Homo sapiens: one gene and its partners. The protein of the gene in region 1 purifies or fractionates together with the protein of each later gene. This does not show direct contact. Each region holds a gene or a part of one and is shown in the gene's direction. Other genes may lie near its edges.

Evidence for each region.
Region 2: the proteins of ZNF704 (region 1) and BRMS1L purify together in Homo sapiens (co-immunoprecipitation; 3 studies listed by BioGRID and IntAct, with this or other methods). This does not show direct contact.
Region 3: the proteins of ZNF704 (region 1) and ING2 purify together in Homo sapiens (co-immunoprecipitation; 3 studies listed by BioGRID and IntAct, with this or other methods). This does not show direct contact.
Region 4: the proteins of ZNF704 (region 1) and SAP130 purify together in Homo sapiens (co-immunoprecipitation; 3 studies listed by BioGRID and IntAct, with this or other methods). This does not show direct contact.

Annotation. Positions count from the first base shown.
Region 1 is NC_000008.11:80,871,585-80,879,277, reverse strand, and holds the start of ZNF704 (zinc finger protein 704), read left to right. Parts: upstream 1-4,496; 5' UTR 4,497-4,707; intron 4,708-4,809; exon of another isoform or gene 4,810-5,233; coding exon of another isoform or gene 5,234-5,734; intron 5,735-7,693.
Region 2 is NC_000014.9:35,828,741-35,836,473, forward strand, and holds part of BRMS1L (breast cancer metastasis-suppressor 1-like protein), read left to right. Parts: intron 1-1,054; exon of another isoform or gene 1,055-1,167; intron 1,168-1,940; exon of another isoform or gene 1,941-2,040; intron 2,041-2,669; coding exon 2,670-2,760; intron 2,761-4,237; coding exon 4,238-4,365; intron 4,366-6,103; coding exon 6,104-6,183; intron 6,184-7,733. UniProt on the Homo sapiens protein: Involved in the histone deacetylase (HDAC1)-dependent transcriptional repression activity. When overexpressed in lung cancer cell line that lacks p53/TP53 expression, inhibits cell growth.
Region 3 is NC_000004.12:183,500,592-183,508,512, forward strand, and holds the start of ING2 (inhibitor of growth protein 2), read left to right. Parts: upstream 1-4,466; 5' UTR 4,467-4,604; coding exon 4,605-4,776; intron 4,777-5,506; exon of another isoform or gene 5,507-5,675; coding exon of another isoform or gene 5,676-5,727; intron 5,728-6,259; exon of another isoform or gene 6,260-6,419; coding exon of another isoform or gene 6,420-6,426; intron 6,427-7,921. UniProt on the Homo sapiens protein: Seems to be involved in p53/TP53 activation and p53/TP53-dependent apoptotic pathways, probably by enhancing acetylation of p53/TP53. Component of a mSin3A-like corepressor complex, which is probably involved in deacetylation of nucleosomal histones.
Region 4 is NC_000002.12:128,024,806-128,033,381, reverse strand, and holds the start of SAP130 (histone deacetylase complex subunit SAP130), read left to right. Parts: upstream 1-5,322; 5' UTR 5,323-5,442; intron 5,443-6,075; exon of another isoform or gene 6,076-6,218; coding exon of another isoform or gene 6,219-6,290; intron 6,291-7,083; coding exon of another isoform or gene 7,084-7,089; coding exon 7,090-7,201; intron 7,202-8,576. UniProt on the Homo sapiens protein: Acts as a transcriptional repressor. May function in the assembly and/or enzymatic activity of the mSin3A corepressor complex or in mediating interactions between the complex and other regulatory complexes.

The DNA of each region.
Region 1 (7,693 bases):
GCAACAGAGCGAGACCCCATCTCAAAAAAAAAAAAAATTGACATGCATTTCTTAACATACACACTAGACTCCATTTGTGGATTTTAATAATGGGTATTTGGCTTAATCTTAAAACAGACTTCAAGTTGACATTTTATATCATGGAACTTGAGAGTTAAAATGAGAGAGCTCCTTGGGGAGCACAACTCATTCATATTAGAGTTGTGAACTCTGCAGAGATCAGGGGACTTAACTAGTGTTCCATGGCTAATAATCCCCACAGTATGATTCAACTCAAATCTCTGGAATCTCAATCCAGCGTTCTATTTATTGCCTCTCAAGTGCCAATATGAGATGACTAAACTGATCAGGAAACAACAAAGACAAAATTGCACCTACTGAAATAGTAAATATGTGTTACATAAATAAGAAGGCAATGCTATCATTTTAACACTCACTAAAAAAAAAACCTAAGTCTTTGAGAGGTATTGTAAGGAACTAGTATTTTGAAAGTACTGTGTGTTTTGAAAGAGAGTTTAAGTTAATTGCTCATGGAAGAAACATTTATCTGGGTGGAGATTATGCTTGACTTAGACAGGCTTTCAGCCTGAAGGTTGTAATAGATGAGTTATTCTCTTAACCTTAATCTATTTTTCATACGGTGGGATGACAGTCATCAAATGAAATCATTTTTAAGTTTCCCAGAACTGTGGAAAAACTAAGCTAATCTTACTTTCATAAGCTTTTTAAAGGGCAAAATTTTACTTTTACTTTTAAAATAATTTTTAAAAGGAGCTACTAATCTCAACAAATCCAACTATTAAAGTTTCACAGGGACAAAAAAGAACTACCACCAGTGGGTACAAATTTGTTATATGTTTTGTTCTGGCTATGGTTACACCTCTTGATTTTGGAAACATGATTATTTTGCTGAATCTTAAATTTTAAAAAAACACTGAACATAATGTCAAATTGAGCCTGATTTTCTTCCTTCCTTCCTTCCTTCCTTCCTTCCTTCCTTCCTTCCTTCCTTCCTTCCTTCCTTTCTTTCTCTTTCTTTCTGATACATGTAAAAAAAATGTTTTAGTTATCTTTAGGGCTCAGAACTCAAAGGTTTAAGAATCACTGGAGATCTGAAGAAACCAGACAGGAGCCAGCCAGCTACTATGTGTTTAGGGAGTGATGCTCACTCCAAAGCCTACTCTCGTTCTTCCGCAGCAGTGCTTCTCAAACTTTGACCAAAGCACGCGGACAGTAGGGGAGAATGGATTCTATCTGCAGGAAGAAGACAGAGTCCAGGGCTGCGAGTTTTCATTCAAAGTTCACACTAAACTTCACACTATTCTTATGTCTGTTTTAATATAAAGAAATACGCTTTGAAATGCACATTTCTTTATACTAAACCTCCAGCACCTTCTACCCCTCCTTTTATTTTTCCCTTACTTTTTCATGTAGACACTTAATGCCTCCACAAAATCATATTGTTCACTTATCTTCTTTGATTATTGTCTGCTTCCTCCCCGAGGGAGGGTTATTTTGTTCGCTGCTGCACGCCAGCACCAAGAACAAGACCTGGCACTTGTCAGGACTCAACAAATCCATGCAGAATGAACGATGAAATGTTTTAGATGAGGATGTGTTCAATCCAACTGTTCTGGAGGGGCTCCTTCTTTATCCCATGGCTCAGAGGCACATTTCCTCATTCTGAGTGGCAAGCGCTCCCAGTTTTGGAAGAAAAAAATGTGTTACACTTAGGGAATGTGGGGGAAAGAAGCAGCAATGACTCTTCCCCACTTGCTTGGCATCACAAGATACTTTTTGACTTCTGAGCCCATGTCATGCATGTAGTGTGTCATGTGCCCACATCATGAGATCTTTTCTTGATTCCTGATGAGTTAATTTGATTTTATTCCCACTAAGTGTCCTCTGATTTAATGAGGGTGGTCTTCAGTGGCCTGCACTTGCCTAGACAATGCTGCTCTCCCTGCCTGAACAGATCCTTCTCATCCCTCAAAGCCCAGCTTGGGTGAAACCTCTTTTTTGACATTAGCCTTCATTTAATGGTTTGAAAGCCAAGGCCAGGTCTTTTTTTTTTTTTTTTTTTTTTTTTTTTCCCATTCAGAGGCAGCCTTTCCAGCAATGTGGGGCCAGGGAATGGATGTCTATGAAGTCTATTGAAGTGGCCTAAGAGAAACAATAAGCTGATTTCAAAGCATATACAGCAATTTTAAAAGAATGTACAATAGTGTATCATCTTTCACTAAGTCACAAATGCCAATCACCAATTCATTTAACTCTGTATTTCCTCTAGGTTCTCAGGAAAACATTTACTTTCTTTCATCTATAGCAATTTTAGGCACAAAAAGCTACATGCTTGGCCTGACCATGGTCCTCCGATGACAAGTTGTTGGTCTTTAAAAGCACATTTTGCTAGTTACTGACATTACTGAGCTTACTTAAAAGAGAGCTACCTTGTTATTCTCTGAGAGTATCCCAAGCCACCTTGTTTACCTACCATTACAATGTTTAGTATGATAAGCCCGCATATAAACCCTAGCTTGTCCCAGGCACTCTTGTAAGCTGATTGCATTTATTCACTCATTACTCTGCAAAACAACTTTACTACTATGATCCCCATTTCACAGATGAGGAAACAGGCACAGAAAGAGGATGAGTAAAAGTAAAGCTGGTAAGTTCCAGAGTCAGGATTCGGACCTAGGTGCTCCTGAGACCATGTGCCTAACTACTAGCCAGCTTGCCTCACACCTTTGTCCTCCTCCACCTCCTCCATACCTGTCTGCCCACCCCTTGCCCCGATCTTTCCTTTTCATGGCCAGAGAAAGATCCTGCTGCCTCACTCTAAAATCATCTCCCAAATCAACGAAGCTAAATTTCTTCCAATTGGGATGAAACCACCTTAATGTTCTTTCTTAATTCTTTGCACACTCTAGCTGATACTGATTATTCACTTATTGGCTAGCCCCTGCTATTCCATGCTTTGATCAGACACACCCATCTCTTAATGTTCTGTTTTCTTCTCTCTGAATTCCTGAACAGAATATTTACAAATATAAAGTCCAACAAGAAAATGGTGTGATCTAAATGGGGTTTCGGAAACATAAATCTGGTGGTGGCATCTGAGGAGGGAAAGGGAGGGTGTGTGGGTGAGAAAATGGGTGTGTAGAACTGTTAGAAACTTCCACTTTTGAAGTCACAAAATGCTGTAAGAGCTTTGGGAATGGAAAGGAAGGGGTGGATTCAAAATGCATTTTAGAAAGAACAATGGGTTGGACTTGTGGGCAATTGCCTCTAGGGATAAGGTAGAGAAGGGAGTTAAAATGATACCGCTATTTTGGGCTCAAATGATTATAATGAGAGTTTCATCACCTGAAATAGGTACATCAGGAAGCTAATCTGATTCAGGGAGAACAAAAAGTTCATTTTAGAATCTTTGTCATCATCCCTGTTCAACAGTTGGAAGCCACCATAAGTGAGCATTTAATGAGCCCCATTCAAGTGTCTAACAGAGCATATGATGTTAAATGTCCAACAATAATTAACTGAAGGTGAATACACCTTTTATTCTGGCCCCACGGAGGTGCCTACCAGGGTATTTGATGCGTAAGATCCTCCCCAGCCCTCCTCTACAGGGATGGAATTGGGGGTATGATTTGAATGTAAGAAATACGACTTAAGGCCGGGCACGGTGGCTCACACCTGTAATCCCAGCACTTTGGGAGGCCAAGGCAGGCAAATCATCTGAGGTCAGGAGTTTGAGACCAGCCTGGCCAACATGGTGAAACCCTGTCTCTACGAAAAATACAAAATTAGCATGGCATGGTGGAGCGCGCCTTTAATCCCAGGTACTCAGGAGGCTGAGGCAGGAGAATCGCTTGAACCCAGGTGGCGGAGGTTACAGTGAGCCCAGACCATGACATTGCACTCCAGCCTTGGCAACAAGAGCGAAACTCCATCTGAAAAATAAAGAAATATATATAAATAAAAATTAAAATAAATAAAAGAAGAAATACCACTTACTACATAGCCTAACCCCACGCAATAGCAAATATATTTTCTTTATCACACCTAAAAATCGTCAGAAAATGGCAAAATTAGTCATGTTATGTGCTTGATTTCCAGATTTGGTCTTACTTCATATTAATTTCTTAAGTAACCAACTCAAACGATCTTGAACTCCCACCCATTTGTTTCTTCAAAGTCCTGAACAATGCCAGAAGAGAGTCTACAGATCAGACAGTGCAAACAGAAAGCTTCTTGGAATTCAGCCATTAAAATCAGGCACTCAAGGTAGAATAGCAGGAGTAAAAGCTGAAAGACCTACACACTCAGCACAGAGCCAAGGCAGCTCAATCGCAGGGCCTAGAGTGGTGCGTTCAAAGAGTGTGAGATTGGTAGACAATCGCTCATGAAACAGTGTTTCGAAAATCTAAGCGACTCTGATGATTCATATTAGGAATTCATCCCAAACCTCAGATTGGTACACCTTCCTTGATTTCACACAAGCTCAGGAGTAGCTGCCATGCACATCAGTGTCCATTAAAATGACTTGTAGCAAATCTCTACGTTCAAAGTCTAACTTTGACAGACAACCTTACTTCCAGCGAAGTCTACTCCCCTCCCTCCGGAGGGAAGAATGGGCTGCGGTTAAGCGTTTGCCCTGGTGTCAGGGCCAACTGCTTCGAAGCGCCAGACTTTCGGAGACTGTGGGTAAGAGAAAAAAAAAATCCAGTCCGGGTTTTGTCTGAGCGGGGGGACCGGAGGGTTGTGAGGAATGGCTCGCGAAGAGGGGGGCGGTGGTGGAAAACATACAACACAAACAGCTCGCGCCGAGGCACGGCAGCGGTAGGCCCGGAGCGCGCGGGCGCAGCCGGCCGGGAGAGGCGCGCGCGGGCTCGGCCGCCGGCCGCATGGAGCGCAGCGCGGCCCGCGGCTCCCGGGCGGCGGCGGCGGCGGCGGAGGCGGCAGCGCGCCGCTCGCTCACACCCACCCCCGCCCGCGGCCGCCGCGCCGCCCCGCCGTAGCCGCCGGCCGCCGGCGTCCCCGCCGGCCGGTCCAGCGAAGGCGGCGCCCGCGCCTCTGCAGCCAGTGGCAGCCGCGGGTCCTGGCCGGCGGCTCCTGCAGCCCCTTGCGGCCGCGAGTCCCCGGCCCTGCGGCCACCGGCGGAGGCAGAGGAGGAAGAGGAGGTGACAAACTCTCCGGCCCCGCGCCGCGGCCCGCAACCCCGCGCTCAGGCATGCAGGCGCGGCGTCTAGCCAAGCGCTCCAGCCTGGGCAGCCGCCGGGGGGGCGCCGCGCTGCAGCCTGCCGGGCCGGCGCCCGCGCCCGCCAAGGAAGCCGCCCTACCCGGGCTCCCGCCCCCTGTCCCGGGCCCGGCCCCGGCGCCCGCCCCGGAGAGCTGGAGGCCGCCGCTGCCGCCGCCGCCGCGCAGCGCCGGGACCGGCCCCCCTCGGGCCACCGGGGCCGCCGCCGCCGCCTCGTCGCCGGTGCTGCTGCTTCTAGGGGAGGAAGACGAGGACGAGGAGGGCGGGAGCAGGCGGCGGAGGGGGCTCGGGCGTGTGGAGGAGAAGCCCCGAGGGGGCGCGGAGGAGGAGGATGACGACGAGGAAGAGGAGGACGAGGAGGTGGTCGTCGAGGTGGTGGACGGCGACGAAGACGACGAGGACGGCGAGGAGCGTTTCGTGCCCCTCGGACCCGGCCACGCAGTCCCCAGGGGCCCGGCCCGGGGCGCGTTGAAGGTGCGTGTTGGGCGCGGTGGCGCGCGTGGGACCCGCCAGCCCGGGGAGGGGGACGGGCCCGGGCCCCGGGGCAAGGCGCCTGGCCGAGGACGGTCAGCGGCGCCGGGGAGAGACCCGGCCAGGAGGGGTGTGTCAGGCGGCGCGGGCGGCCGCGCGGGGCAGCGCGAGGAACTGTTGATTTGCCTGCGCCTTGGGCCCCTGCGTCTCTCCCAGGCGGCGGCTCCCGCTTTCCTCAAAGGCCGTGTCGGGTTTGTTGTTTGGTGTGGGTGCCGGGAAAGGGCGCTTCTCCCCAGTGAGGTGGGGAACTTGGGTGATGGGACCACGGAGGCGCCGGTTCGTGCCCGGTGGGGACGGGTGAGGCAGGGGAGAGTGAGATTTTATTCTCCCCCAAGGAAGGAGTGTCCCCTTCTCCTTATTTTGAGGGCTATTCAAGCTTATTGAAACCAGAAAGCGGTGTTTCTTGTCAATCTCTCAGCCCCTTCTTCCAACCAAGAACAATTGTCGATGAGTTTCCATCACAGGCGCTTGTGAGAGAACCGGTAAACCCAGTACAGCAAAATCCAAGCCCTTGGTTTCCACATGCATTTTGCTAGCAGTTTTTGGCATTGACCCTCGCCCTCCCGTGTTTCCACTCGACATCATTTAGCGTTTGAGGTTTTTTTCCCTCCTCAAAATTGCAAATGAGAAAAAAAGAGGAAACCAGGAAAAGGGGGTGGGGGGTAGCATTTAAATTGGATGTGAGTTTCTGCTGAGAATTCTAGCGAAGTCCCCTGTACACTGAAGCGCCGAGAGATTTTTCCGTTTGTGTATCTTCAGGAGATAAGGGGTTTATTATTACACAACTGACTGGTTGGGCTTTCAGGCATGCTATTGGACAAAGCAAACCACGTTGAGATTCATGCACGGTGTATGTTGCTAAGAAGTTTTGAGGGCAGCAAGTGGTAAGCAATGGAGTGAGTGATTTTTCTCAAGAGTGGTTCCTAAAATCAGCTGAATAACATTTTACCAGAGTTTTCAGAAGGTATTGGTATTTCAGGAAGAAAAAAAACTCATGAACAGCTGAGCTTAATAGTTAGAGACCACTAAAAAAAGCTTTGGGGGCTCACCAAAAAAAGCTCCTCAAAGCTTGAAGTTGCATTTCCAAAGAAATGTTGAACATCGGCAATTAGAATAGCCCCAGAGTAGATGTGGGCAGAAATTTATTTCCTAGACCACCCTGGAAGTACCAGCTCTGGGAGTGAGAAATTTTCAGCAAGTAGTTATTTGGGATGATAGTTTTTGACAGCTGCTTGTTGAAATCCAAACCGTGACCACATTCATTACCATGGTCTGTTGAAAAGCCTGCATTGTATGGCTACAAGATATAGCTGGGTTTGAAATGAAGTCACATGGTGTCAGTGACATTGAATATCAAGAGTAGTGACTCCTTAGCATTTTTGTCCAGAAATACTGAAAGTGTGTCCTGTGGTTTGAATAGTGATTGCACAATTTGTGATAGAAACAATAATAATTTATGCTCTGTGATGAAAACAAGCTTAATATAGGGAAAAAATCAAATCCGTAAAAACAGAATAATGAGTGTGATAATTCACTTGATCAGTAAAGGTTTTTCACATCTTCAAGTAAATTTCCTTTAAATTCTTTCAAAATGGGCTTCATTTTATAACACTCTCATTTGCCCACAACTTCAGAAATTTACACAGAATGTTGGAGTCATTTGAGGTTTATCTTTTAAATTACTCTTTTAAAGACACTGTATCTGAAGAGATTTTCTAATGGAATATCACTAGATAATTTTATTATAATGCATATACGAATGTTAACCTCTTACATATATTCATGCATTCATTTATTCAACAAATATTTATTGAACACCTATTATGTGCTAGCAGCTATTCTAGAACATAGCAGTGGACACCTTCCTGATGCTCACATCTAGTGAGAGGCATCATAGCAACA
Region 2 (7,733 bases), on another chromosome or scaffold:
CCACCGTGCCTGGCCGACGTGTTGCTTTTGGAGTGATGGCAGTATGCTTAAGATTGCCCAACTGACAAATGGAAATGTGACATTGGAACCTGCCCGATATGGGAAGGGGAGAATAATTTGTAAGTCATCTGCCTTGCCATGAAAGTAGGTGAGATTTCAAAAGCGGGGAATATAGAGAAAGGAGACTGTATGGGAATATATTTCTTTTTTTTTTTTCTTTTTTTTGAGACAGTCTTGCTCTGTCACCCAGGCTGGAGTGCAGTGGCACGATCTTGGCTCGCTGCAACCTCTGCCTCCTGGATTAGATTCTCCAGCCTCAGCCTCCTGAGTAGCTGGGATTACAGGCATCCTCCAACACACCCGGCTAATTTTTGTGTTTTTAGTAGAGATGGGGTTTTGCCACGTTGGCCAGGCTGGTCTTGAACTCCTGACTTCAAGTGATCCACCCGACTCTGCCTCCCAAAGTGCTGGGATTACAGGCGGGAGCCACTGCACCTGGCCTGTTGGTGAATATGTTTCTTAGATCTATAAAGTATTTTGTCTTCAGATGTTCTTGCATTTATGATAGGAGCAAGGATCTCATAAAATTCTATTTGTTAAAATTCTCCCCCTATAATTTTTATGTTGACTCTTGTGATTTTTAACTTTTAAAAATTCCATCCCAAAAAATAATGAACAACTTAATTTTTGAAGAATGTGATAATAATTTGAACTACAAGTCAAAATTTTAAGTGCAAAGAAATTGTTTAAATAAATTTTGCAGTTTGCTTCTGTTAAAGCATCTCTGTTCTACCATATGTCTTTCATGTTAAACTTTCACAGTGTTTTCTTCTCAAATGTTGGTGCTGAGCAAATTCTAAGGCTACGGAAAAGCCTCTACTATCCAGAGAACTTGGATAGTGAGTCATCTTGAGGGACCAAGTTTTGAGTAGCCAAGAAGTAAGCAATCAAAAGCCAGAAGTATTTTTAATCTGTTTTAGAAAATGAGAAAAAAATGAGTCAGCCTTCCATGTTATATAAAAATAATTGAACATGATTTAACTCTTTCTCATAGTTTGACTTTTATTTGATGAAGATCAAGATGCAGATCATTTTGTGCTTCAGTTATTTTGATGAATGAATATATGTGATATGAACATAGAAAATGTGGACTATAGGACAGACCTGGTAATTAACAGTTGCTTTCCTTAAAAAGTTTGTATTTTCCTCCTCATTTGCCTCTTTCTCACTGATAGTAATATGGGTAGACGGAATAAGGGAACGTAGGAATGGCAGACCAGGAGAGCCTGTGGTAAACATAATAAGATTAGTTTTCCTTTTTCTTTTTCTTTTTTTTTCCTTTTTTTGAGATGGAGTTTCGCTCTTGTTGCCCAGGCTAGAGTGCAATGGCACGATCTTGGCTCACCACAACCTCCACCTCCTGGGTTCAAGCGATTCTCCTGCCTCAACCTCCCAGGTAGCTGGGATTACAGGCATGTGCCACCACGCCCAGCTAATTTTGTATTTTTAGTAGAGATGGGTTTTCTCCATGTTGGTCAGGCTGGTCTCGAACTCCTGACCTCAGGTGATCCGCCTGCCTCAGCCTCCCAAAGTGCTGGGATTACAGGAGTGAGCCACCATGCCTGGCCTTTCTTTCACTTTTTATTTTTGAGACAGGATCTCTGTTGCCCAGGCTGGCGCAATCTTGGCTCACTGCAACCTCTGCCTATCAAGTTCAAACGATCCTCCCACTTCGGTCTCTCGAGCAGTTGGGACTACAGGCATCCACCACTATGTCTGGCTAATTTTTGTATTTTTATTAGAGATGGGGTTTCACCATGTTGCCCAGGCTGGTCTTGAACGCTTGAGCTCGAGCAATCCTCCAGCCTCAGCCTCCCAAAGTGCTGGGATTACAGGCATGAGCCACCACACCCGGCCACTTTTCTTTTTTTATGTGACAGGCAAATCAGCCATGTGAGCAGTTCTGAAAGAAGAATCCCAAAAATGTTTTTGAGCAATGTTAGCCTTTAAAGGACACAGTCATTTTGGTGCTACATTCTGGTGAGTTGGTGGAAAACAAACCAAATGTGGGCTAATTACTTTATAGTTATAGCTTATAGTCAGTCCTTTAAAGTGATTTAAAAATGAATAAAAGTAAGAGGGTCTAGAGACCAGTATAGTTTTATATACTCATCTGTATTTTAGATTAAATCTATAGTGGATTTTTTTTTTTTTTTTTTTTAGACTAGGTCACTCTGTCACCCAGGGTGGAGTGCAGTGTCACAATCATGGCTTACTGCAGCCTCCAACTCCTGGGCTCAGGCGATCCTCCTGCCTCAGCCTCCTGGTAGGTGAGACTACAGGCTCATGGTACCGTGCCCAGCTAATATTTTTATATTTTGTAGAGATGGGGTCTTCCTCTGTTGCCCAGGCTGATCTTGAAGTCCTGGGCTCAATCTGTCCTCCTGACTTGGCCTTCCAAACTGCTGGAATTAGAGGCATGAGCCACTACGCCCAGCAGAAATTATTATTTTTGATAAATCTTGTTTATTTTCTTTTAAGGCTTAATATAGGTCTTCTCTTCATATTACAGTTTTTCTTCCTATTTGAATTACGTTCAGATATATTTGAGATGTTCAGATAAATTTGAAAATTAAGTTTATCTTTTATATTTGCCTTTTTATTAACAGAAATGGATGATGAAGACTGTGAAAGAAGAAGAATGGAATGTTTGGATGAAATGTCCAATCTTGAAAAACAGTTTACCGATCTCAAAGATCAGTAAGTAGTGACTTTAGAAGGCCATTGTCACTGAATCTCAACCTTGTCACTTGTATACTAGCACAAGAGCAACTAGATTCAGTCTCAGCTGTTTTGTATTTTATGCGACAGACCAATTTGAAAGAGGCTTCAACTATTGTTTGTCTACTAAAGACCTCATTAACTAAACTGAGGGTTTGGAGGCAGGGTTTTTTTGTGGGCTTGAACCCAGGAGTTGGAGACCAGCCTGGGCAACATCGGAAGACCTGGTCTCCATAAAATATTTAAAAATTAGCTGGATGTGGTGGTACGTGCCTGTGGTCCCAGCTACTTGGGAGGTTAAGGCAGGTGGATCAATTGAGCCCAGGAGGTCAAGGCTGCAAGTGAGCTGTGCTCGTGCCATTGCACTGCAGCCTGGGCGACAGAGTAAGACACTGTCTTAAAAAAAAAAAAAATTAGTTCTGTCCTGCAGGATTATTGCCAAAAATAAACACTGAGTTGTATCATACTCTAAAGGTATTGGTGACAGCTGGCAAATTAGAGTATTTGTAAGTGGCCTTATAAATAGGAGTAACAGGGACCTCCTGCCCCATTTTTGAGTTCCTTGTTCATTGAGCAACTAATTTTGTTATGGCTTCTTCATTTGTAGTTGAGACAAACTTAGTATGTCAGGTCATAAAAACATTGGTTTTACCTTCATTAGTCTACTTCCTCTTTGCTCTTTTAAAAAATTAAGTAGGCTGGGCCGGGCACGGTGGCTTACGCCTGTAATCCCAGCATTTTGGGAGGCTGAGGCGGGTGGATCACGTGGTCAGGAGATCGAGACCATCCTGGCTAACACGGTGAAACCCCGTCTCTACTAAAAAATACAAAAAAAAAAAAAAAAAAAATTAGCCGGGCGCCTGTAGTCCCAGCTACTCGGGAGGCTGAGGCAGGAGAATGGCGTGAACCCAGGAGGCGGAGCTTGAAGTGAGCGAGATTGCGCCACTGCACTCCAGCCTGGGTGACGGAGCGAGACTCCGTCTCAAAAAAAAAAAAAAATTAAGTAGGCTGAATACAGTAATACTGACTCCTTTTCAGGAACGGTAGAGAGAAGCCAAGTAATTATTTATTTTGACAACTGGTAATGTCTATTCAAAATGATTTCTTTGTTTCTTTTAAACTCAGTGTTTAAATGACCTTTTCTCTTAGAATTGGTTTTATTGTTCTGTGGTTAAAACAAAAACAAACATTAATAGTGCCAAAAAGTAGTTATTTCAATTTTATTTTTTTGTATTGGGAATTGACCATTAAAGAGTGATAGATAGATACCTGTTTTGTGATTATGTGCATAAAGTCAAATAATGTAACTGAGTTCTCTGCTTGAGATCAAGGCAAAATATATTTGATAGATTATTAGAATATAAATGATATTGGGAACAAATAATGTATAGAAATGGCAAATTGTTAGCCTTTGTTGAGATTTTTAAATTAACATATTAATTTTTGCTTTGTTAAGACTTTATAAAGAACGATTAAGTCAGGTGGATGCAAAACTACAAGAAGTCATAGCTGGAAAAGCACCAGAATACTTGGAACCGCTGGCAACTTTACAGGAAAATATGCAAATTCGTACAAAGGTAGCAGGTAGGAAAGTGAAGAATCTTTTCCATATATAGAATGTAAACTCTTCAGTAGCTTTAAAAGGTGTTTATCAAGTAAGTGTTTTATGTTGATGGGATTACAAGCATATTTACATCGACCAGAATATTTTACTTTTAGTTAGCCCACAGTTACTGTATTTATTGAATACCTCTTGCTTTGCTCTGCTGCTGTAGGGGATTAAAAAAAAAAAAAGCCCTCAAGTTGTTTACAGTGTTGTTGAGAAGATAGTTCCACATTTGGTGAAACAACTGGAAACCATGATACTTTCATTAAGAGAGACTGTTACTATCACATTTTAATTCCCTATTAGATAAAGTTTAAGTGTTCTAGGCATTTTTTTAATACGTAAAAGTGATAGGATTTTTTTTAATTTATAAAAAATTTTAAAAATGTTTGATCAGGATATTATAGAACAGGAAACTTGCCTTGAACTAGATGATTTAATTTTTCCTTTTTACTTTGATAAGTTTGGTTACTCATTTGTGGCTACAAATAAACAAAGATGCACTATATTTGTATGGTTACATTTCAGTCTTATGTTTGTAAATAGGATCCAGCCTCAGTATCATGTCCTGGCACTCATAATCAAGGGATATATATATGATTTTTCATAGTCAAAAACTAAACTTTAATTAGTGGAGATGCTGGTTGTTTTTCTCTTATGTGGCACTAATTGACCCTTATGTACCTGTTAGATAATACCTAAGGCATTGTTGATAATAAGTTCTTTTTACTAAACCCTCCTTTAACCAAATTTTATTTTTGAGTGCTTAATATTATGTAGATGATATGATACTCTTCACTGCTATCTTTACATATTGACAACATACCCTTAGAAGTAAAAATATCCCTAATTTTCTTTGTTCTTTTAGATTACATGGATGATCAGGAAATATTACTTGAGTCGATTATTTACTTTTCTACTCTGGCCTCTTTTATATTTTGATTTTGCAGAGTAGTGTGTGTGAATGTGTTGCTGATGACGTAGTTCCAGATATCTGTCTCTTGCCTTTACTATACAAAGAGAGATAATTACATTTCTAGGGCCAACTATGGCATAAAGCTTAGAATACATATCCAGAGCTCTTTGCGTGCCGTTTTTGTAGTGACATATTTGCATGGCCATGTTACCTATTTTATACTATTGTCCTGTTAGGGTCTAAGTTAAACTATCTTGGGTATCCATCCTCTAGATAAAGTCCTGTCAGGAGCACTCCAGACATAATTGATTTTGTTATATCAGTTTATATACATTTACTCCTCGTGGATTCTTTGGATTGAAAATGATAGTTAAAAAAAAAGTGGTTTTGGTGGGGTATAGTATCTAGCTGTTACTCTGAGTATATGTGATTGATGACACCAGAGTTTATTATCTCCATTTCTATTTTGAGAAACTTGAGAGATTGTTTTTCACAGGAAAAGAGTTTTATTTTCATTTTGATTATTCTGTATCAAACATTTAGGAGTAATCTTTAGAAGAATAGATTAAGAACAAAAACTAGCAGTACAGTTTCTTTCTAGCTCTTATAATTTCTAATCTTTTTGGATATATATTTTAAGTGAGCCTTTTATTTTTAGTCTTTAAAGACAAAGTTAGACTCACTTTTCAATTTTTTCTTGATCCATCTTATTAAATACAGTGAGGACAGAATTCCTGTAGGGAAGTGATAATGGAACTTCTCATTGCTAACATAATCAGAGTAATTGTGTTTGGTTGCAGGAATCTATAGAGAGCTCTGCTTAGAATCTGTAAAGAACAAATATGAATGTGAAATTCAAGCTTCTCGCCAGCATTGTGAGGTACTGTCATTTTGCATAACTTTTAAGCTAATTTCATCTCTTCAAGCCTTTTCTGAGTGTAGTAGTTAAAAAAGTAAACTAAGTAAAACAATATTAAATAGTACTTTAGCTCATCATTTGTGTGTGATTAAAAAAAAAAAAGAATAGAGTTGCATTGGAAGCTGTATTGGAGATAGGACACAAAGAAAGGACCATAGAAAAAAACTGAGATAATTTTAGAAGTTTTGCAGCTGTTACTTTAAAAAGACTTTGCAACGATTATGTCACCTGGCATTACTGAAAATATTAGTATAATTAGTATAATGTGGATTAGATTTGCGAAATATACACTCAATGGTGCAGTTAGGATGTTGGGCTATAGAATTAGTTTCTGTCTGTCTAGACCTATTTCCACATCTTTGGGCAGAATTCTCTATTTATGGGAAAAAAAATAGGTATATTTTTCTGTATATTCTGTTTATTTTGCATTTAACCCATTTATGCTGAAGGTTGCAATTTTTTTGTGTGTGTGAAAAATCAGATCTTGGTGATGACCTTGAGCAGTAGGATATAAATAACTCCCACAAGCTTAACATTCCAGTAATGGAACACTAGGCATAAATGGGTTAAAATATTTATAGCATTTAAAAAACATAGTGCCCAGGCATGGTGGCTCACACCTGTAATCCCAAGAGTTTAGGAGGCTGAGGCGAGAGGATTTCTTGAGCTCAGGAAGTCAAGACCAGTCTGGGCAACATAGTGAGACCCCCCACCTCTACAAAAAATAGAAAAATTAGCTGGGCATGGTGGCAGGTGGCTGTAGTCCTAGCTACTCAGGAGGCTGAGGTGAGGGGATTGCTTGACCTTCGGAGGTTGAGGCTGCAGTGAGCTGTGATTGTGCCACTGTTCTGCAGCCTGGGTAACAGAGTGTCACCCTGTCTCAGAAATAGCAACTACAACAACAACAAACAAAAAAACCCCATAGTGCCCGTTTTGCAGATAACTTTTTATCAAATCTAGACAAGATTATAGATATACAGGTAGAAATAAGAGGACAAGTTCTATAACGATTCTTCTGTCACTTTAATGTGCCGTAAACTAAGAGTAGTTAGGTATAAAAATGATAGAGCTCATTGTTTCATTTTCATAATTACAACTGAGATTGATTATCTTTTTGGCGTTTACTAGCTGCTTGGATATTTTTTCCTAAGAAGTGCCTATTTGTATTTCTTGCCTTTGTGTTGGCTTTTAGTCTTTCCCTCATTGACTATATAAGTTCTTTATATATTCTGGCTATAAATGCTTTGCTGGTTGTATGCTTTGCAAATCTTTTTGCCCAGGTGGTACGATGTTTTCACTCTTTCTGATGACTTGCTGCAAAGAAGTTTTACATTTTAATGTAGTTGAATTTATTATCTTTTTATTTATGGGATGTGTTTTGTTTTCTTTTGTTTTGAGACAGGGTGTCACTCTGTCACCCAGGCTGGAGTGCAGTGGCATGATCATGGCTCACTGCAGCCTCTACTCCCCTGGCCTCAAGCCATCCTCCTGCCTCAGCCTCCTGAGTAGCT
Region 3 (7,921 bases), on another chromosome or scaffold:
GGGGTTTCATCATATTGGTCAGGCTGGTCTCGAACTCCTGGCCTCAGGTGATCTGCCCACCTCGTGGCAAAGTGCTGGGATTACAGGCATGAGCCACCACACCTGGCCTAACTTTGTACTTCAATCCTAGCCAAAGTGTTTTCTTAAAGCAAAAGAACTGCTAAAATGGAATTACATCTTGGAGTATATTTAGATATTGAGAAGAGTTATCTCCAGTTTGTAGTGACTTTTATATATCTTTTTATTTCTATTTAAATTTTTTCTACAATAATGTGTATTACTTATGTAATAAAGTAATAAAAAATGCTTTAATGCTTTAAAACTGAGTTCAGTGGAGACGCACACCATTAGGTTTTGTTTTTTTTTTTTCTTTGAGACGGAGTCTCGCTTTGTCGCCCAGGCTGGAGTGCAGTGGCATGATCTCCGCTCACTGCAACCTCCGCCTCCCGGGTTCATGCCATTCTCCTGCCTCAGCCTCCCCAGTAGCTGGGACTACAGGTGCCCGCCACTACGCCCAGCTGATTTTTTGCATTTTTAGTAGAGACGGGGTTTCACCGTGTTAGCCAGGATGGTCTTGATCTCCTGACCTCGTGATCCGCCCGCCTCGGCCTCCCAAAGTGCTGGGATTACAGGACTATTAGGTTTTTCTTTAGTTGCTTTTTGTACTAATGAATTGATTTAAAGTTTTAGGGTTTTTCACTATAATTTAAGATGCTTCACTGGACCTTCTAGAACAAATTACACTCTAACACAGCCTCCTAGATTACTAAGGATTTATTTATTTGCATCAGGTACAATTACATTTCTTACAACACGCTATCAATTGGTGACTTTTCATATGAGGATTTCTTCTTGAATTTCTCCATATTTAAAGCAGTGATTTTAAACTACTTAAATATCTTCCTCAGAAAAACATTGCTCTCTGCTTCACTGAATTAAACAGGGAATTAACTGCCTCTTACTGGTTTGGAAAAGACCTCAGTAACCAAATAAAATGCATGGGATTTGCTGGATCCTGTTAAACCAAATGTGAAAGATTTACTGAGACAATAGGAAAATTTGAATTGTGTAGTTATTAAATGATAGTAAGAAAATTTGGGGAGGCAGAATACATGGTATTACGGATATGCTTAAAAAACTGTTATCTTGGCCAGGCATGGTGGCTCACGTCTGTAATCCCAGCACTTTGGCAGGCCAAGGCGGGCGGATCTCTGGAGGTCAGGAGTTCCACACCAGCTTTAACCAACATGGTGAAACCCCCTCTCTACTAAAAATACAAAAATTAGCTGGGCATGGTGACACATACCTGTAATCTCAGCTACTTGGGAGGCTGAAGCAGGAGAATCGCTTGAACCTGGGAGGCGGAGGTTGCAAAGAGCCAAGATCGCCCCATTGCACTCCAGCCTGGGCGACAAAAGCAAGTCTCAGTCTCAAAAACAAACAAACAAAAAACAACTATTATATTTTACCTATTCATATTATTCATATTTAAAGTATTTACAGATAAAATGATAAAAATCCAGCAAGAGTGAGGGAATGTGAAGGGCTATAGATTAAATAATCTTAGCCATATGTTGCTAAATGTTGAAGCTGGGTAGACGGTATATAAGGATTTATTGTAGTATTACTTTTGCCTTTGAAAATTTCCATAAAAGTTTAAAAATATTAAAAAGTAGAAAAAAGAAAAGGATTTCATTTATTTGATCTGACTCAAACAGAAGCTGAATTTTCTCAGCAGGCATCTTTAGGAATCTTTCACCATTACTTGCCAGTTTGTTTTCAACCAGTTTGAAGTTGTTGCTCTCCCCAAGAGACAGGTACGGAGGCGTACACATTTCCTGCCAGGGACCTCTTAAAGTCAGACTTAGAAATTCAAGGTAATCCCAGACTAATTTGGGGAGATCAGTTACTTATCTTTTTTTTAGGGTTGCTTTATGGTAGATAATACACTGTAGAGCAAATAAAATGCCTTTTTGCTTTATTCACAGGATTAAATACCATAAATTAATTTCTAGTTGCTGAGAACGGGAGATTTTAAATTTTGCATTTAGAAGACAAGAAATTCAATCTGAAGAGGCCCCATATTTCCAGTTAAGTGACCACTCAGAAGGGAAGGACAGCGCTCAATAACCAAGGTCAAGAGTTGGGTTTAGGGTTTGTGGCGATTTTTTTTGGGGGTGGCAAGAATAAGCCGTAGATTAATCTCTTAAAATAAATATAGCAAGAAAAGCATGCCTAAAATAATTCATACATATACATATATTATCATATTACAGTGTTTTACAGTTTTAGATCAGTACCAGCTAAAATATTCTTTGGATTGTTTTTGCTTTTTTACCAGCCTGTTCAACAGAATTATAAAAGGTGACAATAATGCTATAAATGTCTCCTATCCCATGCTCATCCCTCCTCTCATCTTGCTCTGTTTCTGGAGTACTCTAGGTATTCTGCATCTTTGCCTTTTTCCCCTTCTAGTTTCTAAACACATTTCTTATCTACTTGCAGATCACTTATCAGACTGAATAAAATCCATAGGTACATTCGGTGTCTGACCTGTAACAAGGCACCCCACATTATTTTGCGCCTTTGATAAAGACCAGCTTATTCAAACTTGTGAGAAAACAAAAATAGCAGGGTTCAAGTAAAAACCAGTAAAATTCAGTTCTTCACAGTGGCGGTTTTTTGACAAGACCCGGCCGAAAGATTTCACGAACAGTAAAATCCCAGAATGTTCTCAGAAATACTATCCACTGTACTGTCTGGGTTGCTTAATACTGGCCCAAACCTCAGTGTCCTAGGATAATAACCCAAGACAATTTCCCAGTCCTTTGAAATAGTTGACGTCCCAAGATGTCAAATTGCCTGGAGTGCTTTATTTTGGTTTGAAATTTAAAATTTCCTCTAGATAAAGATCTAGATTTCTCTTTGCAAGTCAAAGGCTAGTTACTATTAACAGCTGTTTCAAAAGTGCTCTAAATAGGTCACCATTCAGGTGTACCAACGCTGCAAACTGGATCTAAGAAGATCCAAATTTGTCACCACTCACTCACATTTTAACTCAAAGGTAGTACTCACAATTGGCCTTGTTTACATAGGCATTCCATTAAAATTATCCATGCATTCATTCTATTTGCACCCATTTCTTTCAAAAATGTCCATCTGTAATTAAAATCAGCTCCTCTGCCTGACATCTCATTTACACTACACCGAAATTAAACCCCACTAGGAGATCACGTAGATTATGGGGCCGAGGGCCCGCCCGCTGACTAGGTTTTCACTCGCGTCTCCTCCATGCCCCAGGTCCCCTCCGATTGCAGTCCTGGGGCAGGACTGAGCAAAAAGTCCCGTAAAGCTGGCGTGTGCCCCACTCCGCCAGGAAGCCTCACCGACGTCCTGTGCTTAAATGTTCTGACACCCCCCAAAAGCAGTTGTTTTTAAAGGCTGTCTGTGGGACCAATGCGTTGTCAAACAGATGCCGTCCCGCATCCCCTCCCCCTAAATGACACAGAAGATTCCAGCGTAGGGGAAGGGCCACGAAACCCGCAGGGCACACGACGCCGGGGGCCGGAGGGAGCACCGCCTACCTCCCTGATCAAGCCCCGCGGTGCCGGGCGAGCCCGAGGGCCCGGCAGGAGGCGGGCGGCAGCCCCAGGCGAGCTCGGAGGCGGCGGGAACGCAGCCGCCGCGCATGCCGGGAGCCGCACGCCGCCCGCCGGGGCGCGCAGTCCCGCAGGCCTCGCTCCAGGTCGTCCGAAAAGGAACCGCCTGCTGCTCCTTTGCAGGCTCGCGAGGAGCCGCACTCGGACCGCCTGATGGGGAAAAAGCCGGTGTGGCCGGGCGGAGCGAGCCGAGCGGAGCTGGAGCTGCCCCTCCCAGCGGGGAGGACGGCACGAAGGACCGAGCCGCCTCCCCTCCCGGGTCCCATTCAGACGCGAGGCGCAGAGACTGGCTCCCCGGGCTTCCCCTTTAAGGGGGGCGGGGCGCGGCCTGCCGTTTGGCCGCCCCCCACACCCTCCCCCGCTAGCCCAGAGCCGGCAGACCAATCGCCCGGGCGGCGGAGCGAAGGCGGGAGAATGCGAACCCTCCGGTAGGCGGTAGGGGCGGGCCCCGGCCTTATTCGCAGGGAGCGCTGCGCAGGCGCAGAGGCGGCCGCGGGCGGAGGGGCGGGGGCAGGCTAGCGGGAGGCTCTCCGTGAGGCACGGAGGGTGACTGGGGACAGGCGGGCGGCGACGGGCTTGTCATGGGGATCCGGGCTGCGAGACGGCACTCGTAGCATCTGGGGACTCCGAGGGGGACAGGAAGTGTCAGCGCCCGGGACCCCGGCGCCGGCCCCGCCGAGGGGATCCCCACTGCTCCGGTCCTGGAGCGGGAGGGGAGAAAGGAGGGAGCCCCGGTTTCGCCCCGCCCCTGGGCTGGTGCTGCGGGGGCGGGGAGTGAGGGCTGCTCTGGGGGGAGTGGAGATCGGGGAGCGCGGCCGTGCCCTCTCGAGCGGCTGCGGGGTCCCCGCGGCGCCGGGCTGCTGAGCTGAGGGCCCGCGGCGGCCGCGGCCGGTGCATGTGCGGCTGCTGGATGCGGAGGCGGCGGCGACGGCGCGGATCGGCAGGATGTTAGGGCAGCAGCAGCAGCAACTGTACTCGTCGGCCGCGCTCCTGACCGGGGAGCGGAGCCGGCTGCTCACCTGCTACGTGCAGGACTACCTTGAGTGCGTGGAGTCGCTGCCCCACGACATGCAGAGGAACGTGTCTGTGCTGCGAGAGCTGGACAACAAATATCAAGGTAGGAGCCGCGGGGCTGCCGGCCTCGGGAGCCGGTGGCGGGGAGCCTGTCCGGGGGAGTGCCACCTTCCCTTTCTCCCGTGACAGTCTCCCCGAGCGCACCGAGGGTCTGCCGAGCGGGACTGGGAGGACTGGAGACCGGGTTGGCGGCCCTCCGTGGCCCCGCGGTGGGCGAGTACTTCTCTGGGGTCCCCAGAGTGGGGGTGGGGGCCGCTTGTCAGCCCCCGCTGCAGACCCAGCGGCTGCAGCTGCCGCTGAGGGGAATCAGCCATTTTAAGCAGCAAGCATTTGTTCAGGCGCTGGCCCGCCCCGTGCCGCAGACCCTGCGGCCCCGGCCCGGGACTGCAGCCGGGCAAGGGTCGGAGGGAGTGAGCGGCCGGGCTCCCGCTGGTCTGCGGGGCGCGCTTCCCCACCTCACTCGCCCCCACCCCGGAGTGCGGGTGCTTTGGAACGTGCGGGGGGAGGGGGCGAGAGGCCGCGGAGGCGGACTGAGGGGGCCTTCCTCCGCGCTCCTGCCCCGGCCCGGAGGAGAGCAGTCCGTTCCGCTCTCTCGCCCCGGGAAAGTTCGCGGGCGCCCCGCGTTGTAGCCCTAGCCCAGTTCTTTCGGCAAAATGGTTAAGAGGGGAGGGGTCCCCCGCGGGAGAGGAAGAGAGGGGCGTGTGTGGCGGGGAGGGCCCCCGCGCCGGGGGCGGGGCCTGCGGGCTTGACGAGGGGCGTGGGAGGGGCGCGGCGCGCGTTCCCGCGGGCCTGGAAAATGGCTGGTCGCGAGAGGGGCGGTGGCGAGCTGGCTGCTGGGGAGGGAGTCGGGGCTGTGCGGGGGCGTTGGTTCGGCCCCAGCGGAGTCCGAATCGGGGTTTGCAGCATGTTTTGCGGTGATGTTTCCAACCTCTTTCCCAGTCAATGGATCAGGACGGCGATCAGCAGCTCGGACCGTCGCGGATCCTGGCTCCGCGTAGGTTCCGGGACATGTGTCACTTCCGGGCTTCAGGAGGAAGTGGGTTGGTTGACTGGGCAACCGCCTGGCGTCCCCGAGCCCCTCCTTCTCCGACTTTAAGTGTGGAGGCGAAACCACCCTTTGCCGGCCGACCCGGGAACCCGGGACAGAATCGACCTTCCTTACAGTGTTACCACCTACTATCGGTGGTGCTACTAGGAGGGCAGTTTAAAAGGGGAAATGTGTTGCGCTTAATAACCTTGAATCGAGGAACAGACCTTGAACATAGTATGGAAACAGCCATACGAACTTTAAAGATAATTTCCTGGACCCATTCTCTGTTTTTGTAGACACGCCAGTAATCCTATACTTTAAAAGTCTCTAAGGAATCCACTTCTTGGGTGACATAAGTGTCTGATGTTTTTTAGTTTATAAATTTGTTTCTGTTTTCTGAATCCATAGGATTCATAGGACTGATCCGTGTTTGGGGAGGGGGTGGGGAGGGAATTAAAACTGATGCGCTGGGTCCAGACCATTATATAAATATTTCTTTTACAGATTACAAAGAGTTCAAGTAACTCGTCCAGTTAATTCGATGTAGAATATTTGGCTCCAGAGCCTGCTACTGTAGATGCATATCTTTGTTTTCAAACAATTTAAGTTTTAATAAAAACTGTCCAAGGGGATTTCTACAGATATGGAGCACAAACATGAATGGTAACCTAAAAATGATACGTGCTTAATAATTGTATATGGAACCTTTCTAGTTTTTCAGATAACACCAAAGTTTGTAAAGCTTGTAGTTTGTGTTGTTGTTTTAGACAGAGCCTTGCTCTGTCCCCTAGGCTGGAGTGCAGTGGCTCGATCTTAGCTCCCTGCAACCTCTGCCTCCCGGGTTCAAGCGATTCTCCTGCCTCAGCCTCCCGAGTAGCTGGGATTACAGGCAACTGCCATCACGCCGGGCTAAGTTTTGTATTTTTAGTAGAGACGGAGTTTCACCATGTTGGCCAGGATGGTCTTGAACTCCTGACCTCAGGGGACCCGCCCGCCTCGGCCTCCGAAAGTGCTGGGATTACAGGCGTGAGCCACCGCGCCCAGCAAGCTTGCAGGTTTTTACATTTCTTTGAAGGCACATGTTTCCTTTCACAAGAGTTAAGCTATTTGAAGTTGGTGAGGGATACTATAATTTGTTGACAGGGAAATCTTTCGGATCATCTATAATTGTCAGGTATTAATAGCTCTGGTAACATTAGTAATATAGTAGGCCTTACAAGATTGAGAGATTATACAAATTCTTAGCTCTATGAAGTTTGTGATTAGTGATTAAAAACTCATCTAGTTTTCACTCTGCACGTGGTTACTGAGCTCAACTTTCACAGTTTTATGTTTATGTATATTTTGGGTTCAGATTTCATGTTTTTTATATCTTCACTAGTGCTTAAGTATTTTCTGGTTTTGGATCTAATATTTCTAGCAATATTTAGTGATATAAATTATATAGGCAGTCAAATTTCTTTCTAACCTACTTGAGACACTTTCAGAACTGCTGAAAAACTTATAAAATGAGAAATAAAGAAGAAAACAATTTCACAATTGAAGTACTTATTATGGGATAGGGTTATTAGAGAACCTTTATTTTTATTCTAGTGTTCCCACTCATAATTTCTTAGATAAATAACAACCTTCAAACTAAACTTTGATACTTAATTTCAAGTGCCTTTCATATAGTTTATAGAAAGTGCTTACACTGCGAGGTCAGACATACAGATCTGGCACAGTTCAAAGTCTGGGGTTCTTATCTCTTGAGTTGCAGTTTTTTTCACAAGCAGAAGTGATGGCTTCCTCATGGGGTTGCTGTGGAGATTAACTGAGAAAATCTTTACCACATAGAAGGGGCTGAGTAAATGTTAATTTCTTGTCTTCTTTCACTATATAATACGGTATCTTACAAATTTTTTATCTCATCTATCAATGTGCTGGTATGATATATACTGTACTTAGCCTCTAACACCTGATTATTAGGTACAAAATATTTGAAAAGAGGTTTGCCTCTTTTTTTTTTAATCCTCAATTTTTTATGTGTCTGAGGGAACCAGTTTCCTTATTTTTCCTGTAGGGAAATGAGGTTCTTAAGAAATCTGCTTAGATGCCGAGCTAAGCAAATGGAATAGACATGAACTTTGTTCGAAAATATGCTATGCAGGTGTAAGTA
Region 4 (8,576 bases), on another chromosome or scaffold:
ACACCAACATTTTGTTTTGTTTACACCAACATTACCGCAAATATATGAGTAATGCTTTGCACTAGATATTATGACAGCTAGAAGGTCACTAGATGACAGGAATTTTTCAGCTCCATTATAATCTCATGGAACTAGTCATATATGCAGTCTGTCCTTGACCAAAATATTGCCATGGACTACATGGCTGTATAAGTTAACATCGTACAGGAAGTGCCATCCCACCACCTCTGCCATTTGCCATTGGTTAGTAGAAAGTCGCAGGTCCTACCCACACTCAAGGCAAAGGAATGATCCCTTTGCCTTGGTTCCTACATAAGGGTAGGACCACTGGGAAGAGATCACGCGGGACCATCCTAGAGTCTCCTGCCACACCTGGCATAGGTGCTGCTGGGGTGGGGACAGTGGTATAGAATGTGATACCAGGAAGAGAGAGATTCTTGAGTTTGCCCAGGGTAATAAACAGATGGAAGTTGTAAAAACGATGGATACAGGCAAGCTCAAAAGCAACACATCCTTTATGTGTATGGCTCATTTAATCTACACAACAAGCTGGAGATAAATAAGGTTATGCTCATGTTACACAAGTGACCTGGAAGAAACTAGGCTTTCCTTGACTGGGAGGTTGAGTCAAGGGGAGTATTTGGACAGAGGGCAACTGCAGAGAGTCAGTATCGTTAGACTGCTCACGCAGTGACTAAGTGAGAACCGTCTGGGTCCGATGGTAAAGAGGCCCACCAAAGTGTAATTACCTGGCTGACTGGGCATACTGCCTATGAGTTAGCCCTGCTCCACAAGGAGCAGTACTATTCAATAAAAAGTTGCAGGCTACTACCACCAGTTTGCCCTGGAATTCTTAAAAAAAAATTTCTTTAAGAGAAAAAAATGCAACAAAGTGTTGGATCACCCAGTGGGTTCTTCCTGTCCACTGTACAGACAAAATCAATCCACTGAGACCGTGGCATTGCAGCAGAGAAAGTGTTTAATTGACAGGAGGTGGGCAACAGGGAAGAATTAGAGTTATCACTCAAACCAGTCTCCCTGAAGGCTCAGAGCTTAGGGTTTTTATGAACAATTTGGTAAGCAGGGGGATAGGGAATGAGTGCTACTGATTGGTTGGGGATGAAACCATAGGGGTGTGGAAGACATTCCTCGTGTGCTGAGTCTGCCTCTAGGTAGGGCCACAGGACCAGTAGAGCCATGAGTCACGAGTTCAGATCGGATCAGTATGAAAGATATCTCAAAAAAAAATCTTTACAACAGTGATGTTATCTATAGGAGCAACTGGGGAAGTCATAAATCTGAGACCTCTGGCCACATGACTCCTGAGCAGTAAAGGATTATAGAAACTGACTACTTTTTAGCAGAGTTCAGGCCCCTCTCATAATCCTATTCTTGTGGTCTTTCGTTGGTTTACAAAGGTGGTTTTGGTCCCCAAGCAAGGAGGGGGTTAGTTTTAGAAAGGGACTATTATCATCCTTGCTTTCAAGTTAAACTATAAATTGTGAAACATAGCTGAGTCTATACCCAGGAATAACCAAAGACAGCGTGGAGGTCAGAAGTAGGATGGAGTCAACTATGTTAGATATCTCTCACTGTCACGATTTTGCAAAAGTGGTTTCAATCACATCACCAAGTCTCAGGGACCATTCGCTGACATCTGACTGACTTCCACAGAACACTCACGTGGAGAATCTGCTTTTCTCTAGAAAATCACCGAGCAGATATGATGCCTATTGTATATCTGCTTAATCTATTCAAAAGATCATGGGTGGACAACACTTTTTTTTAATTTTTTTATTTTTTGAGACTTGCTTTGTCGCCCAGGCTGCAGTGTAGTGGTGCAACCTTGGTTCACTGCAACCTCCACCTCCCAAGTTCAAATGATTCTCCTGCCTCAACCTCCCATGTAGCTGGGATTAATTTTTGTACTTTTTGTACTTTTAGTAGAGATGGAGTTTCACCATGTTGGCTAGGCTGGTCTCGAACTCCTGACCTCAAGTGATCTGTCCGCCTTAGCCTCCCAAAGTGCTGGGATTACAGGTGTGAGCCACCGCGCCTGGCCAATTTTCAAGAACCTCAAATACTAGTAAGCTCCTGAAACTGGCATAGGGCTTGAATACTTGAGGAGTGTAGAAGGTTCAGTCTGGCTGGGGCACAAGGTGTGTTTTCTGCACACCAAGTTCAGTTGATGGGAATTCTAAACCCTAGTGATAAAAGATGGGTGAAGCACCTGTTTTCCTTTAAGTGTCCACTATGTGCAGGACCAGAGACATGGATGAATAAAGCCATAGCTACTGTCCCAAGTAACTCAGGAAAACTCCAATTTCAATCATATAGTAACGCCGATGTGTTTGTGATTATATTTAGCAAACATTTATTGAATGCTTCCTGGATCTAAAACCCTGTTGACAGGAGATATAAAGACAAATAATTTCTCTGTTTGCCTACTCCAGGAGGAATATGGGCAGACACAGATCAGTGCTGTAAGAGAGGTACTGAGGAAGTTCTATGGAAATATTCTAGAGGGTGGGGAAAAGAGAGGAATTGGAGGAAGGCTTCTTGCCGAAGAGAAACAGTTTTATTTCCGGTTAGGCATTATAGAATTGGCAGAACTCTTCTAGATGATTGCTGAGCATCCTAGCCTATTAGAAGGCACTTCAGGCCAGAGCAAAATGCTGGAAGCCAAACTGCGCAGATAACTAGTAGAAACTGTTGTTGGCAGAGTATCCAGTGTCTGGAGAGGCAGGAGAGACTAAATTATTAAGGCCTTTGGATAATGGGCATAGGGATTTGGAATATATTCCGAAGATATGGAAACATCGTGGATGGGAAGGATAGATCCAGATTAGTGATTTAGAAAAAGAATTCTGGAGGACATAGTGGGTGTAGGAAGAGATTTCAGTGGGGGCAGCAGCATTGCTGCAATTCAGATAAGAAATAATGGCAGCTTGAGCCACAGCTATGGAAACAATAGAAAAGGAGGCAGAGGTGCATATCAATGTAATATGGCGGCTGTGGGAGATGGAAGAGTGTGGAACATATATGAAGCTGAAGACAGAAAGGATGGTGATGCCAGTAAGTAAACCCAGGTATCAAGGGGAGTACACAGGGGAGGCAAACCAATAAAGGTGTTCAATACATTAACTTTGAGGGGCTTGTTAAGACTTCTGTGTGGATTGGCCCATCAGGCGGAAATATAGGTATACAACTCGGAGAGGTCACCTATGCATAGGTAACATTTTCAAAGATATTTGAGGCTGGGTGTAGTGGCTCATGCCTATAATGCCAGCACATTGGGAGGCTGAGGTGGGCAGATCGCTTAAGCCCAGGAGTTCAAGACCAGCCTGGGCATATGGTGGAACCCTGTCTCTATTCAAAAAAAAAAAAATATATATATACACACACACACACACACACACACACACACGTATATATACATATATATACATATATACATATATATACATACAACTCCATCTCAAAAATATATATTATATATATAAAATATATGTATTCATATATAAATATATATTTTTGAGACAGAGTTTCGCTCTTGTTGCCCAGGCTGGAGTGCAATGGCTTGATCTGGGCTCACAGCAACTTCTGCCTCCCGGGTTCAAGCAATTTTCCTGCCTTAGCCTCCTGAGTAGCTGGGATTACAGGAATTTGCCACCATTCCCGGCTAATTTTGTATCTTTAGTAGAGATGGGGTCTTTCCCATGTTGGTCAGGCTGGTCTCGAACTCCTGACCTCAGGTGATTCGCCTGCCTCGGCCTCCCAAAGTGCTGGGATTACAGGCATGAGCCACGTGCCTGGCATATATATATGTTTAGTGGGGTGTGGTGGCATGCGCCTGCAGTCCTGGCTACTCAGGAGGCTGAGGCAATAAGTTAGTTGAGACAAGGAAGTCGAGGCTGCAATGAGCTGTGATCACGCCACTGGACTTCAGCTTGGGCTGAACTGAGAACCTGTCTCAAAAAAACAAAAAACAAAAAGGATGACATTTGAAACTGTGGAAATACATTAAACCATTTAGGAAGGCAGTATAGCATTAGCGTGTTGGAGCCCTGAAGAATGCTGTATTTATGAGAAAGAGGAGGTATAATGGAGCTTGACATAGGAGTAGAAGCAGGAGACAGCCTGGTTCTAGAGGCCAAGGGAAGACATGAGGAGGAATTACTACTGGTCAGTAAGCTAAACAAGATGAGATCTAAGTGAGGACCGATGGGTTTGAAGTTGAGTAGGTGTTGGCAACTTTTGGGGAGCAGTCTGAGAAGAGTGGCAACTCCAAAAGGGATAAGGACTGCCTAGGCAGAGAGGAGGCTGAAGTCTATCACAGGAGTCACTCTTTAGAAGTTTGAGAATGAAGGCATGAAGGTGGAAAAGGAAAGTGGCTTGAAGAGGAGGAGTATCTGAGACTCATCCCTGGGCTATAGCCAGGAGCTACTCTCTTCTAACCAAGCAGTTGTCTTACACAGCTGTGCATGATAGGAAGAGGGGGGTTTGAGCCCCATTTATTTCCTAACTAATCACAAAACTCCAGGCCTAAATTACCATCTGGTAAGGGAAGAGGGAGACTTAATCTCTTATCAGACACAAATGTGGCCTCAAAAGATATGGCTAAGTCTTCTACAGGTGCATAAACTCCAACCCTGAACCCCAAGCAAAATGACAAAATAAAACTGCCCCCTTCAGCTCCTTTATAATCCGGAAAGCGCGCGCAGGTGCGCCCCGGCCGCCCAGAGCCCTGCGCCCTGCCGGCCTGCTTTCACAGAGCCGCGCCCGCGCTGCGCCTGGCGGCTCCCGCCGCGCGTAGGCTGTGCCGACCGCGGTTCCCGGTGGGGACACCGAGTCCCACTCGCGGCATAGGGAGGCGGGCACCGTCACGACACTGGCCCGGCCCGCGGATCCCTTGGCCGCCGCAGTTGGCCTCCATTACCCTTTCCCGCGCCGCGCCTCCCCGCGGGGAAAATGAAACCCAGTGCCCTCAGGTTAAGGCATAGGGTGGGATCCACTGTCTTCTCACTTAGCCAAGAGAAAAGGCAGAACCGACTTCAGACAGCAAAGGGGTGTGTTGCCCTGGCCGGGTCGCCTGCGGCCCCGCCCCGGCGCTCTCCACCTCCTTCGCGGCCCGCCCTCCTGACTCCGGCGACTACATTTCCCACAGGACGCCGCGGCTCAGAGGGGCGGGCCCGTCCGCTCTCCCGCTCACGACCACCGGCGACTGGCTGACTCGGCAGGGGGCGGGGCCTGCGCCAGCCAATAGACGGGAGGCTCGTTACGGCGGCGGAAGCAGCGGCGCTGGAGTGAGGGGTGGGGGGCAGAGTGCTAGCTCCCCGGCGGTGGCTGCGGGTCCGGAGCCTGGGGACGTCGGCCCCACAGACGGAGAGCGCGCGGGAGCGAGCTCAAGGCGGCGCGGCGGCCACTGGGCGCAGCACCCAGGTAATGGCGGGACGGGCGCCCGGGAGGGAAGGGGAGGAGACGAGGGGGCGGGGCGGCTGAGCCGGGCTGCAGCGTCCGTCCCGTTGCGCGTCCCCGGGGAAGGGCAGAGGATCCTCGTCTCCTGCGGCTCGGACCGCGGCTCTTTCGCGAGCTGGTCACGGCGGTTGGGCCGGCGACAGGGGCTGGGTGTCCTGTGGCGAGGAAGGGAGAGGCACCGGGAGGGGTGGGCTGACCCGGGCGTGGGGGCGTGGCGGACGTGGGCCTTGGCGGGGAAGCAGAGCGGCCGGGGGAGCGCGGGCGGGCGGGCGGGCGGGCGGCCGGCCCAGGGAGTTTGGCTCCTGGAGCAGTTTAAAGTGACTCTCCACATCCGGGCCCTGCGCCCGCCGCTTTCAGACCCTGGCTGAGGCGGGGCCTCCCCGCTCCCCGCCCCCTTCGCCGGGGGCGCCTGTCTTCCTCTGCCATTGGCTCAGCCTCGAGGGGTTTGGGCTGCCCCGGCCAGGCTCGCGCCTGATTGGCTGGCAGTCGGCGGGAGGGTGGGGCGGGCTCTGAACGTGCAGGTCGCTGTGGATTGGTCCTGGGCCTCCACTGACGCGTCGGGCGTGGGGCCAATGGGCGGGCGGGGGAGGCAGGGGCAGGTTCGGGGGAAGAGGACTGCGAGCACAGCGGCGGCCGGGTGGCGGGGGTGAGTGGGGCCAGCGGGGCTGGACAGCAGCGGGCCCCGGGCGCCGCCGCCGCGATCCCTCCCCGCGCCCGCCGAGCACATCGCCGCCGCCGAGATGGGCCCTCCGCGGCACCCCCAGGCCGGCGAGATAGAAGCGGGCGGTGCGGGCGGCGGGCGGCGGCTACAGGTAAAGAGGCACAGTGCTCGTCTTGTGGTCGGGTCCCCAGATCGCCCGTCCGCACCCCCACCCCGGAGACGGGGGTCTCACACTCCGAGGTGTCTGGAAACCGGCGTCCTCCGGTCTCAGCGGGGGCTTCGCGGTGGGGTGGGGTTGCGGGCGAATCGGGAGATCGCTTGGCTCCTGAGGGAAAAGTGGGGGGCGATTTTAGGGAAGATGGAGAAGGTGTAGGGTCCTCTGGCTCTGTGAGGGGATCTGTGGAAGAGAAGGAAAAGGAAATCCGTAAATGGAGGCCTTTGCCGAAAAGCATTGGAGAATTCCTTTTGCATCGGGTCTGGATGTAAGATATCGGATCTTTTCTTAGGGCTGGATATCTTCCTCCGAATGTTCCTATGACATACTAATCACAGTTCTGTTCACCTTGGTGTGAGATTTGAGTGTTTCAAAGAGACATGCCATTTTCCATAAAACTTTACACAGAGAAATACACATGCATTGTGGTAATACCTGTCATGTGACTCTTGTACAGGATTCAATGGTGATTTTTTTAGCATAGCAATCCACAAGTATTTATGGAGGGTCATAGTACCCGCCAGCTCCGTATAAACAATATTTGTAGAAAACTTAGGTAGTTTAGATAATGTCTGCATTTATATTGATCCCAAGTTATTGTTTTTAAATAAATGATGCAGCATTTGCTTTTCCAAGGGACTATCTCATAGGTACTAAAGATGCTTTAATTTCTCAGTATTGATTCAGATCTCAGAATCTAGTAATAACCATATAACTGTATGTACTACAGGTGGAAATGAGTTCTCAACAGTTTCCTCGGTTAGGAGCCCCTTCTACCGGGCTGAGCCAGGCCCCTTCTCAGATTGCAAACAGTGGTTCTGCTGGATTGATAAACCCAGCTGCTACAGGTGAGATATGTAATATTCTAATATATTTTTTCCTACTTTAAGAATATTACCAGTTTTCTAACTTAAAAATTAGCAGATTCTTCTAGGATTTTAGTAAATTCTTGTTTCTTGAATTTGAAGAAAGGGTATATTACTATTCTAATTTAAACAAGGCTTTTTTTCCTTCCTGTTTTAACCACTTCATTCACATAGAGTACACATGCAACTTATAGCAAAGCGTGCCTGTAAGAACTGTTTTTGAAATGCATTAATATATTCTTGTTTAATTAATGTCCAGGAGTATAGCATTAGTGCTGTGAGGGAGCCCAGAGGTGTTTAAGGAACAGATCTTGTCTTTTAGGGGTTTATTATCTAGGAAAAGAAGTGGAAAACAAAGGATATGCGGTTTCCCTATGGTGTCTGTGGGGGATTGTTTCCAGGACCCACCTTAGATACCAAAATCCATGATGCTCCACTTTCTGATGTAAAATGGTATAGTGTTTGCATATTACCTATACCTATCCTCCAGTATATTTTAAATCATCTCTAGATTACTTGTAATACCTCCTACAATGTAAATGGTATGTAAATAGTTGTTATACTGTATTGCTAAGGGAATAATGACAAGAGAAAAAAGTCTGTATGTGCTTAGTACAGATGCAAGCAGGGTTTTTTTCCCCCCCTGAATATTTAACATCCAAAGTTGGTTGAATTCACATCAGGGAACCCATGGATACAGAGGGCTGATTGTATACACATAGATAAAACTTGGTTTTTAGTCTTATACCCTTTGAGTGGTAGAAATTAGTGGTTCTCAGTGACAGGTGTTTGGGGAGGTGATTTTTCCTCCAGGGGAGTACTTGGCAATATCTAAAGACAGTTTGGTTGTCACAACTAAAGAGTACTATTGGCATCTGATAGGTAGAGGCCAGGGATACTGCTTAACATCCTGCAAGGTAATGGGAAGCCCCCCACAACAGAGAAGTATCCAGTCCAGTCAGCAGTGCTGAAGTTGAGGAATTCCTTCAAATACTCTTTTTCTCTATGTATTAAGTAAATATATGACATTGCAAAGTGAAATAAATGCTTTTCTATTCCTTTTTCTTCACCACTGGATTCTGGTGTTCCTTATGGTAAATGATACCACTGTCTACTCATTGCTCAAACCAGTAGCTGAGGCTTTTTTTTTTTTTTTTTTGCGCAATAGGGTCTCACTCTGTCACTCAAGCGGCAGTACAGTGGCATAATCACAGCTCACTGCAGCCTCGATCTTTTGGGCTCCCCAGCTAATTTTATTTTATTTTTTATTTTTTTAATTTTTTTGAGACAGAGTGTCACTCTGTGGCCCAGGCTGGAGTGCAGTGGTGCGATCTCAGCTCACTGCAGTCTCTGCCTC